Linked DNA regions of Homo sapiens: region 1 is linked to region 2. The links come from fine-mapping of genetic effects on gene expression. Tissue or cell type: breast. Region 2 holds a variant in brackets; the other region holds the start of a gene. All regions are shown on one strand. Distances are between the middles of the regions. Region 1 holds the start of LHX4 (LIM homeobox 4). Region 2 holds the start of LHX4-AS1 (LHX4 antisense RNA 1).

Region 1 (5,366 bases), 43 kb before region 2:
TATAAACATCCTTGTAACTACATCTTCACAAACATTCTTGATTATTTTCTTTGGATAAATTTCTATAGAGATTGGGTCAAATGCATCACATTTGTAGCCAAAACGTCCTGAGAAGACATTTCCCCTCTTTGCAATCCCCACTAGGAAATTGTTTTCTAATTTCCCCACAGCCTAACCAACAATGGGTATTATCATTGCCCTTACATTTGACTAAGATTTTTACATATTTATAATCCTATGCTATTGCATTGTGCTTTTAAAAAAAATAGTATTTCACAAGCATCCCCATGTTATTGGGTTTCATAATTGGTTTCCATGATTCCATAACATACTACCAAACAATTTAATCTACTTCCCTAAGCCACTTTTCTTTTGTTGGCTATTTAGGTTATTTTTCTCCAAAACATAATACTGTAATAAACATTTTCACGCATGAAACTTTTATAAAAAATTCTAGATTATTTCCGTGGAACAGACATTCAAAAGTACTACATAAACTAAAGGGTATGAAAAATTTATGAGTTTGATACATATTGCCAAATTTCTTTCCAAACGGATGTTAAGAGTTTATAAGCACCCAGCAGTATTGGTGAGTGTCCAAGCCCCTTTCGCCAGTCCTGAACTCTAGGATGCCCCTCCCGCGCGTCGGGCATCTCACAAACAGAAAAAGCTGTGCACGTGTTGTTTTGTCTTGCGTGTTTTTCACTGCAAATGAGGCTGGCGTTTCCCCGTGTTTGCTTACTAGTTATATTTCTATAGAACACATTTTGGTAAACACTAAAAATGTCACTGGGTTCTTTTGCTTTTTTCTTCTTGTGTATATTGTCTCGCGCGCGGAGTCACCTCGCAGGTAAACAAGGGAAGAGATGATGCCAACCCAGTACCAGGACACACAAAAGTCACTGTGACCTCATTGGAGACAAATTCTAAGCAGCGCAGACGACCAGGCCATTCTCCCCCGCCCCATGCTCCTCCCTTAAAGGTGAGCAGGTGTCCCTTGTTTGGAGATGACACCAGGGGAAACAGCAGGGAAGGTTCTGGAAGGCTGGGGAGGGCACACAGTCCCCCTTCCCGCCTAAGCTGAACCCCACTAGGCTGGAAGGACACGTATGTCTGCATTTCTGGAAGGAAATGCCGTGGGGGCTGGGGGCAGGAGAGCGGCTGGGTCTTGGGGCAGACGGGGTGGGCTTCCCGCGCCTGCAGCCCGGAGGCGTCGAGCGCCTGATGGAGCGTCAGAGGAGACCTCGTCCCAGCGTTGGGCCTTCTGTTGTATTTCTGCCAGAAACTCGCGTTGAGGAGAATTTGTTTTAAGCGTTTCTCTACCTGTCCATGCATCTCGTAAATACAGTAAGCATGGCAAGCCCTTTCGCTGGTTAACCCCGGCGTCCGTGTGCTCACTGCCGCCCTGCACGCACGAGGTCGCGGATGGTTCAAAGCACCCGCGGTGGCAGCCGGAGAGGCAGAGCGGGCTCTAGGGACCTAAGACAGGGCCGAGCTGGACGACTGGTGGCAGGGCGGCCGGGGAGGCCCCGCCGCGGGGAGGTTTGGGCCCCCTACCCTGCGGAACTGGAGGCAAGTGCGGACTCCGGCTGCAGGCCGCGGTCTGCGGGGACGCGCGCGGGGGGCCTGCGTCCCGCCACCTCCGCGCACAGCCCCTGGTCCCCTTCCCCAGCCCGGGCCGGCGCCGCCCGCCGCGTGACTCGCGCGTTCCGGGCCGAGTACGGGCTGTCCCTTGGCCCAGCCTCAGCCAGACGCGGGGGAGAGAGAGCAGGGGCTGGGAAGTGCCGGCAGGAAAGGAATTGGCCAGGGGAAAGAGGAGGAGGAAGATAGATGGAGTCATCGGTTACGGAGCGCGCTCCGTCCGGCGGAGCGAAGCCGGGGACCGAGAGCGCGCAAGGCGAAGACACAGCGACGCAGCCCCGTCCCCGGCCTCCGGACCGCCTGCCCCGCTCGGCCCCGGCTCGGCTCCGCCCCGCCCCTGGGTCCGAACGGAGGAGTGAGGAGGACACGAGCCGCGCGGGCTTGGAACCCACGAAGACCCGCAAACCCAGGGCGCCGCCGTCTCCGACCACCTGCTGCCGCGGCAGGCCATCAGCAGAATTTATACCCAGGGCGCGAGCCCGCCACGGCTGGGCGGAGGCGGAGGCGGAGGCGGGGAGGGGGGGGGGGTGCCGGCTTGCGAGGCCCCGCCCCGCTCCCTGCCGCCCCGCCCCCCTCCGCCCCGCCGGCCTCACTCGGGGCGCCGGGACCCCCACTCCCTCCGGGGTCGGCTGCCCGCCGCCGGGTTGGGGGATGTGCCGAAGGGCGGGCCTCCCTGCGGAAAGCGACGTCACGGCCGCTCCTGCAGTGTGAATGAATCAAAACGCCCGGGTGACCGCGGCCTCCCGGGCGGCCGGCACGCGAAGGGTGGAGGGGGAGGGGGAAGGAGCGGGCGGGGGAGGGAAGAGGAAAAAAGCCAGAGCTGCAGCAACAGCGTCTCAACCTGGGATGTGCACCAACCCCGGAGAGCGAGATCAAAGGGACTGGAAACAGACTGGGGACTGGCGGGGGGAGGGGGCCGGCCAGCCTGTGGAGTCCTCCCTGAGAAGCGGAGGGCCCGGCTTCCACCGTGACTCCAGCGGCCTGCTTGGGGTTTTAATTATTATTTTGAAATTTCTGAATCGAGCTAGAGCGAGAGAGCGAGAGATCTCCGTAGACTGCGACTCGCTGGCTTTCGCTCCGAGATGATGCAGAGTGCGACTGTCCCCGCGGAAGGGGCTGTCAAGGGGCTCCCGGAGATGCTAGGTGTGCCGATGCAACGTAAGACACCCCCCTTTCTCGCTGATTTAATTCTAACAAGACAGCTAGCAGCCTCAGCCGCTGCGGGGCGGGCCGGACGCCGCTCAGGGGCCGGGAGGGGCTGGCGGCCGGGGCGCAGAGGCGGTCACAGGGCAGGGGCACCAGCCAGAGTGCGTTTGAGGGGGCCAGGCTCTTGGCTGTTTGGGGCCGAATGTGAACGCCTCCTGGATCATGCTTGAGGCGAGCCGAGTACCGAACCCCGCATCTCCAGCCCAAGGCTTTTCTTGGAACGCTGGGGAGAGTGCTGTTTGGGGACACCCAGGGGTACGAGCTGTAGGCCAGGCCTGAGGGCGAGGGTGGTCCCCACAAATCTTCTTTCGCCGGCGTGACGGTCAGCGCTTGCAGGACCGCTAGTGCAACTTCACCCCAGCTGGCGGGAAGTTGGAGAGCGCGTCTCTCGCCCCTGGGGCTGGCGGCGGAGAAGCCCCGGCCACACTCTTAGTCCCTGCGGCCCGCGCCCCGGGCGTGCGTGCCGGGTGAGTCCCCAGCCGCTACTGCCCGCGGCGCCCGCCGCGTGCGCCGCGGGAAACTGACTGCTCCTTGTGAGGGAATCTGCTCGCGCATTCCAGCTAGCCTAGGAATGCAGGGGAGGGAGAAGCGACCGCAAGTTGTGAATTCCGGGTTCAGCCTTTGCGCACGCGAGGGCAGGTGCTCAGGGTGGCTCGGGTTTGGAGGGGTAGAGACGGGGGTGTGTGGGAGCTTTGCTAGCCTGCCCGCCCGCTTTCTTCCCGCGCCCGAAATTAGCGAGACAGCCGGAGCTCGCGGCGTGTTTATCCCCAAGTCTCTCTCTGTGTGTATGGGTGTGCGCGCGCAGAGATTTTCCCGAAGGGAATCCGTCTCTGTGCTTCACTCCTGAGCGAGAGTCCCCGAGAGGGAATCTGTGCAGAGGCCAGAACAGGTGCCCAGTCGTCGCGCGCGCGCGCGCGCGCGCGCGACAAGCGCCGGGAGAGTCCTGCCCCTGTGGCTTGCACGCTCAGCAGGGCGCCCCGGGCACCCTGGAGAGACCAAGGAGTTCCTCGCTCCGCTTGCCAAGGGGTTGTACTTCCGCCTGCGACTTCTTTAGTGGTGCGGTAGCTACATCTTCGGGGTTTACTTTAAGTAAGGGCCGGCTCATCCAGGGATGGTGACTACCTACAAACTAGGGCGCACGAGCGCGCCCTCCTGCGCCTCGGGTTTCCATGGCAGGGTTTCTGTCCGGCGATCCTTCGGAGGGCAGGCGTACCGTAGGCTTCCCTGGGAAGTTTTTGAGAAGGGACTAGAAAAGAATAGCTTCATCCAAGCCTATTTAGATTGTTTCTTGGCTGTATTCTACAGTTATTCTTTGAGTGTTTTCGTGTCAACTGCCGGCAATCAGTTCCACGTCTGTGTTGAGCCTTGGGGAGTTTACCGCTAAGATGTTTTCATAGAAGGCATTGGAGATTCACTACGCCCCACACCCCGCACACAGGCAGGGACAGAGTGGGTTCTCAGCCCCTGCAAAGACGGAAACAGAAACCCTGCAAAGGTGCACCGAGTCCTTAAGCTGCTTGTAGCTCTGCGCGAGTGAGGAGACTGCATGAGTGGGGGAAGGGTGTGTGTGTGTTACTAGTGTCCTTGGTACCCAGTACGTCTGTGCTTTCATGGCTGTGGTCCGTAGGTGACCTGTCTGTTGGGACCCCAATGAAGGACGATGGTCTCTGCTCTGACGGCCTTTCTTGTGATGAGTGACACTCTGATTGTCTCACTTTTTGCCTTCCCTGTTCAGAGACAACTTTGATGTTCGACGTCAGGGAGTCGCTTTGCTAAAATGCCCAGAACTCACCTTCAGAGCTACAGTTTGCCAAGGCTGAGTCTAGGTTCACACTGTGGAAAACTTGAGGTGTACAAAGGAACTTCCACACCCACCCCCCCAGGGTGGCCCAGGGAGGCAATGTCTAATCTAGAGGGGGTGGTCAGTCCTCCCTTTGTCCGAGTTTCGTGACCTTGGTTGGAGGAGGCATCGGCCAAAATTGAGGGGCCCACTCCCTGAAGACTTCTGGATCCAGCTTTTATTTCCTCTTGGAATGTGAATGGATTGTAGCCTCCCTTGCAGCACATCTGGCCTCTGGCTGTTAGGCTGTTGGTGCTGGGACCGCGGGATAGGTCCCCATCACCCACATATACACAACTATTAGTTTTCTTGGGACTGGGCCCAGTGGCCTAAGAAGGGGGGAAGCTCGAGGGGTTGTGGGGCACACCCTTGGGCCTTCCGGGACAGTAGGCTCTTAAACCCTAGAGGAGGGGAGACAAAAGAAACGCTCTCCCACAGGGGTCCCTCCAGTCGCCAACTAGAAGGGTTTCCCTCTCAACACAGACATGTTTGCCTCTTCATCACATGGAGTCACCACGAATGGAGCACTTGGGGACGCAGGTCTAGGTGTCCCCAAGCTCGGTGCCTCTAGTGCCCTCCCCTCTAGGGGCATTTTAGAAGAAGTGATTTAAATCCAGCTTATTTCGGCGGCAGCTGGACTATTCCTTTGCTTATTTGGGGATGGGTGAGGGGCATACCC
Region 2 (5,366 bases):
ACTCATTTTACATTTCATCTCAGTACACATATTTATACAATAAAAACTAAAGTTTAATGAAATGATCTTGCCATTCCATCCCATTCTCTTCATCTGATTTCCTGTTTTAGTTTTGATCCACTAAGGTGACTTTACAGCCCACGAGTGGGTTCTGACCTATAGTTTAGAAACCTGCTTAGACACTGTTGGGTGTGCAAGCTCACCCCTGGCTGTGAGCCCAGCGACGCCAGGGCAAAGGTGACATGGCTGTGGGGAAATGGGAGACTCCTGATGAGACAGAGGGGAGGGCATCTGGGGCGACTTTGAACATGACTTCAACCTGGCTGTTCACCTTCACAGCTCTGGCAAGAACTCATGAGGATGTGTGAGCAGAGTGTTTGTCATGACAGGGACGTGTGGAATTGGGTACATTCAATCTGATGAGACTTCTGTGCAGCTGGGCTGGCAGGGGAGGGTTGAGGCAGGGAGCTGAGCAGAGAAAGGACTGCTGTCCTCACTTTTCAGTGGCTTGGGAAGGCCCGTGGTGCAGGAGTCAGTGCCATGAGAGTGGGGACCTCTCCACTCTGATGTCCCCTGTGCCTCGCGCTGTCCTGCCTACAGCAGGCAGGCTTAGGTGCAGAAAGGATGGAAGGGAGGGTGTGGGAGGAGGCGCAGCTGCTGCAGATAGGCCGAAGCCAGTAAGCAGTGGTTTTTCCTTGCAGATGACTCAGAGGCTGGAGCTAAGCGGCCCCGGACCACCATCACAGCCAAGCAGCTGGAGACATTAAAGAATGCATACAAGAACTCCCCCAAGCCTGCCCGGCACGTGAGGGAGCAGCTGTCCTCAGAGACAGGCCTGGACATGAGGGTCGTACAGGTGAGATGCCAGCACTCCTGTGCCCTCCGGGGATCCCAGGCCCGGGACAGGGGTGGAAGGTATCCTGAGTGACATCAGCTCACGGGTGGTTGGGCTCAGGGCTTGACCCCAGGGCTTTTGCCAGAACTGAAGACAGAGTTCTGAGGCCCACCTGGGGAGAGGGGGTGGGGCGCATCGCACTCCCAGACCTGTGCTCCATTCAGGCTTCAGTCTGCTTCCAGCCGCCCGCCTAGGGGGTCCTGGGGGCTTTGGGTTTGTGGTGGACGCCCCCTGAGTATGTCCCTTGTGCTTGTGTGGCAGGTTTGGTTTCAGAACAGAAGGGCCAAAGAGAAACGCCTGAAGAAGGATGCAGGGCGGCACCGCTGGGGGCAGTTCTATAAGAGCGTCAAGAGGAGCCGGGGCAGCAGCAAGCAGGAGAAGGAGAGCTCTGCAGAGGACTGTGGGGTTAGTGACAGTGAGCTGAGCTTCCGAGGTGAGCAGGGCTGGAGGGGCCAGGCCGAGGCCTTAGGAAAGTCCCCTGGGAATCTGTAATCCCTGGCACTCAGGAGGGATCTTTCTTGAGGCCTTGGCAACTCCCTCCTGAACACAGGCTTTTCCTTAAGACTTGCAGTGAAGGGTGGGGGAAATGGTAGTGGCCCTTTACCATGGGACAGGAGTAGGAAACAAGATTGCTGAGGTCTGGAAGCTGGGATGGGCCAGGCCCCGTCCTGTGGCCCCAAGGTCTCCCCTCCCCTCCTGCTGACTGGGGCCTCCCTCATCAGCCCACACAGCTATGAACAGATGACTGGGTTCCAGCCTTGTGCCCCTAGCCCCTCTCCCATCTTTGTCCCCTTTGCTGGGACACTGGCCTACTCCCATAGTCCCCTAGAGCCACCCCTTCCTCCAGTCCTGGTGGTGGGGAGGTCATGCTCCACAGGTTTTTTCCTGGGAAATCAGTACTGTGAGTGCATGTGAGATGGGGAACTGGCTTCACTTCCGAAATCCCTTTCCCCACCACTCACTTCATTCTGTCCCCTGCACACAAGCTTTGCAGCATGCACTATATTCAAATTCATGCATCAGCAAAATTGTAAATTACTGCATGTTATGAATCCTCAGGTTGTTTGCAAAGAATCATAACTGTTCTCAGGTACTGAGTTCTCAAATGTGGAAGGTCTTCTGCGGAGGGGGAAAGGGAAGAGTACTCAACTGGCGATCAGAGACCTGGTTTCCAGTGCAGCTCTGTCAAATCGATTCACTTCTCTTGAGCCCCAGTATTCCCAAGAGGAATACCATATCTTTGCCCATCTCACTGCGTTGTGGGGATCAATGAACACAACCAACTGTGGATGTGCTTGGGGAAAGCCTGGCACATTTGTATACCTGGAAGGCATGATCGTTCCCACAGGGAGCGTGTGGCTCCCGCAGAGGGCCCTGGTCATTTGGGATGACAGGTATAGGGAAAAGGCTAACTCATGGCCATTTGACAATGGAGTGGAGCCTTCATCTTCCTGCTCCCTTTAAAGAGCATGAGCTCCCCCCACCATGTTTTTTCATAAGGGGAATGGGGGGCAGGCCTCAGAAGGGATGGGGTGTTGAAGTCTAGTCTGGGGAGGCCTTATTTAGGGATTGGTGCAGAGGCCCAGGTGGAAATAGAAAAGGAAGTTTGTGGGACAGAGGATGGAACAAGTTGCCTGCCAGGACAACGATGCCCTGGGAGGACTCTAGTTCAGCCCAGAGGTCAGCTGAGCCCTAGAGGGCAGCCTCCTCTGAGAACACAGGGCCCGTGAGGCCTTGGGGACAGCTCATGGGACTAATACTCACCTTTTAGGCTTCTTGGCAGGATTGGGAAAGTCAATCTCATCTGGGCTGTTGAAGTCAACACCTAGAACATACTGGATTGTTAAGCTCATTTCTGTTGGGTGCAGGTGGGTCCCTGGGCTGACCTATCATTGGTTTCTCTGGGAATAATTTCTCAAAGACTAAAACTGCTCACCTCTGTTGGAGAGA[G/T]AAATTCTTTCAAGTGGCAAAGATTCCATTAGATCCCCTTAATGAAATTCTTTAAGAAAAAAGAAGGTTCATTTGCCTTAATCAAGTCAATTCTTTGTCCCCAGTGAAGAGCTTATTGAATACAGACAGAAACCAAGTCCTTTGATATTGAACCTCTCTTCCAGATAGACCAGAAGGATTTTGTACAGATGTCTAAGAGTGGTCCTCAGCTTCCCTGACCATATGGGCCTGCTTGCTTCCCAATCAACTAAACCAAGCCCTTTCTCAGCTTGAAAGCTTTCAGGGTAAATGTTGTCAGCATGTAGTTTCCATTTGTGATGTGGAGACATCTGACCCACCCAGCCTTAGGCATTCATCCTCCTCAGTGTAGCCAGAGTATTAGTACACGAGCCACAAGGGACCAACGAGCTCACCAAACATTTGTCCATCCTTCTGGGACCTGGGAATTTAGTCTTTGCAGGTGTTTCTTGTTTTTCTCCTTGGCCTGGGTTGGCCTCTGGATATCAGGCTGCCATATTGGTGTGTCTGACCCATGCTTGGCTGCAAGGCAGCTGCCATCCTTGGGCATCTTTCCTGGTCATGTGTGTTCCTAGGTTGTGAAGAGCAGGGGACCATCAGAGTCCTGGCAGCTGACAATAAATCTCCGTTCTTTTGTCCACAGAGGATCAAATTCTCTCAGAACTTGGCCACACCAATAGGATTTATGGCAACGTGGGGGACGTTACAGGCGGACAGTTAATGAATGGGAGCTTCTCCATGGACGGGACAGGACAATCCTATCAGGACTTGAGGGATGGGAGCCCCTATGGAATCCCCCAGTCTCCATCCTCCATATCGTCCCTGCCATCCCACGCTCCTTTGCTCAATGGGCTGGATTACACGGTGGACAGTAATTTGGGCATCATTGCGCATGCAGGGCAGGGAGTAAGCCAGACGCTGAGAGCCATGGCTGGGGGACCCACCTCTGACATCTCCACAGGAAGCAGTGTAGGCTATCCCGACTTTCCAACTAGCCCAGGCTCTTGGCTCGATGAAATGGATCATCCTCCTTTTTAAACTTCTCTCCTCCCCACCCTACCTGCCCCCCTGGCTTGAGAGAATATCTTCAAGGATCAAAAGAGACTTGCCTTTTAAGGATCGAAAGTACGCCAATGTGAATTTCCATTATTTTCAATGGAAGTCCTCCGCTGATTCCTAGAAGGCTGTGAGACCACACTAGGGCATTGTTTCCCTGGGGAAGCAGTGGGAGAGCAGACTCATCTCAGAACACAGCACAGGGGGTAATGGCCTAGAGCTCTAGGGACACTGGCTTGTTGGGTCTCTCCCCTGCTGTTCTGCTTAGGGGCTTGGCTGCTCAGTGCTTTGGTAGCACAAGGTGACTGTGATAGGCCCCCTTGGCCTTTGGGAACTTTGCTCCAACTGGTGTGTCTCACACAATGCCTCCCAAAACACTGCTCTCACCAGAACTGAGACTCCTAAGGTAGAGGCCTCACAGCCCTTGAGTAAAATAAAAGTGATTTCTGGACCATCCTTATTGAACCCTATATTTCAAAATGAAAAGATCAGTTATTAAAGGTCAGTGAACACTTTGATGGCCAGTTTGATATTAAAAACATGCCCCCTCCTTTTTTATTTTTGCTGTGAAGATATGAATTCTTTCCTACAAACCAGAGAATATGAACCTGTTTTGGTTTTTAAGTGTCCCATCTATATCATTGACTCTGATGGCAAGAGGTGGTTTTCATTGCAGGTGACTGAGGCTGAGCTGAGTAGCCCTGGACCACCGCTGCAGATTGCCTGAGTCGTCCCCTTGGTGCACAGTGTGCCTTCTTCAATTGCTTGTATCATTTATTCCACAAGACAGGCTGTGGGCTGTAAAATGAGCAAAACTAAAATGTGGGGAGAACAAAATGACAATCAATCAGTGAACATTTGTAGACACATTTGGATTCCAAACCTGCAGTCTGTTCAGCCATATCGGCTGATGCCAGTCTTCCAGAGTTCCCCATCCCTTGTAGGGTGAAATATTTGGAGTCTGTTTTGAAGGAGTTGGTTTAGATGAGCTTGCAAGTCTACCCCTCTGAAAGCTTTCTCTGCTGTCCTAGCTGACTCAATTGGAGGACAGTTTTGGTCATTTCCAGGAACCAGCAATTTTTTTTTGGCCTACCTTGGTTGGGAAGAGTAATTTAGGGAGCAGCCCTAAAATTGTCCAAAGGGTTCTAAGTGGTTCTTGGGCTGCATCTCTCTGGATTGCTGGCTGGACACCTGCCATGCCTTGGGCTGCAGTCCCATGGTCAGAAAGCCAGAACTCTCTGGCCAGTGGTGGTGCAGGGACTCCCCGTTGTGCAGGTTTGCAGTAGCAAATCACTAAGCCTGAGGCCAGAGCAAGGCCAACCCCCGCTTTACGAGTTGCCACTCCTGCGACAGACTGCACTGCTGTGGGAAACGCTGTCCTGAATGGTGCTGCAGCTCCCACCCACCTTGTGCACCCATCTACCATCAGGAAGCTCTCCATGTGCAA

The links. PIP is the estimated chance that this variant, and not a neighbour inherited with it, causes the effect.
Region 1: it holds the start of LHX4, and the variant in region 2 is the best candidate, but not a certain one, in a credible set for the expression of LHX4 in breast (GTEx, PIP 0.76).

Annotation. Positions count from the first base shown.
Region 1 is chr1:180,227,807-180,233,172 of GRCh38, forward strand. It overlaps LHX4 (LIM homeobox 4), which reads left to right and starts at 2,458. Exons shown (of 6, transcript NM_033343.4): 1 at 2,458-2,799. The coding sequence starts at 2,724. RefSeq lists a silencer at 1,899-2,028.
Region 2 is chr1:180,270,679-180,276,044 of GRCh38, forward strand. It overlaps LHX4 (LIM homeobox 4), which reads left to right. Exons shown (of 6, transcript NM_033343.4): 4 at 702-856; 5 at 1,157-1,328; 6 at 3,507-5,366. The coding sequence ends at 3,901. LHX4-AS1 (LHX4 antisense RNA 1) reads right to left here and starts at 4,003. Exons shown (of 5, transcript NR_037642.1): 1 at 3,973-4,003; 2 at 3,259-3,434; 3 at 2,660-2,720; 4 at 1,935-2,014; 5 at 1-1,293. It also overlaps a transcript of ACBD6 not described here. RefSeq lists an enhancer at 836-1,763. The variant G/T (reference allele first, on the strand shown) is at 2,846.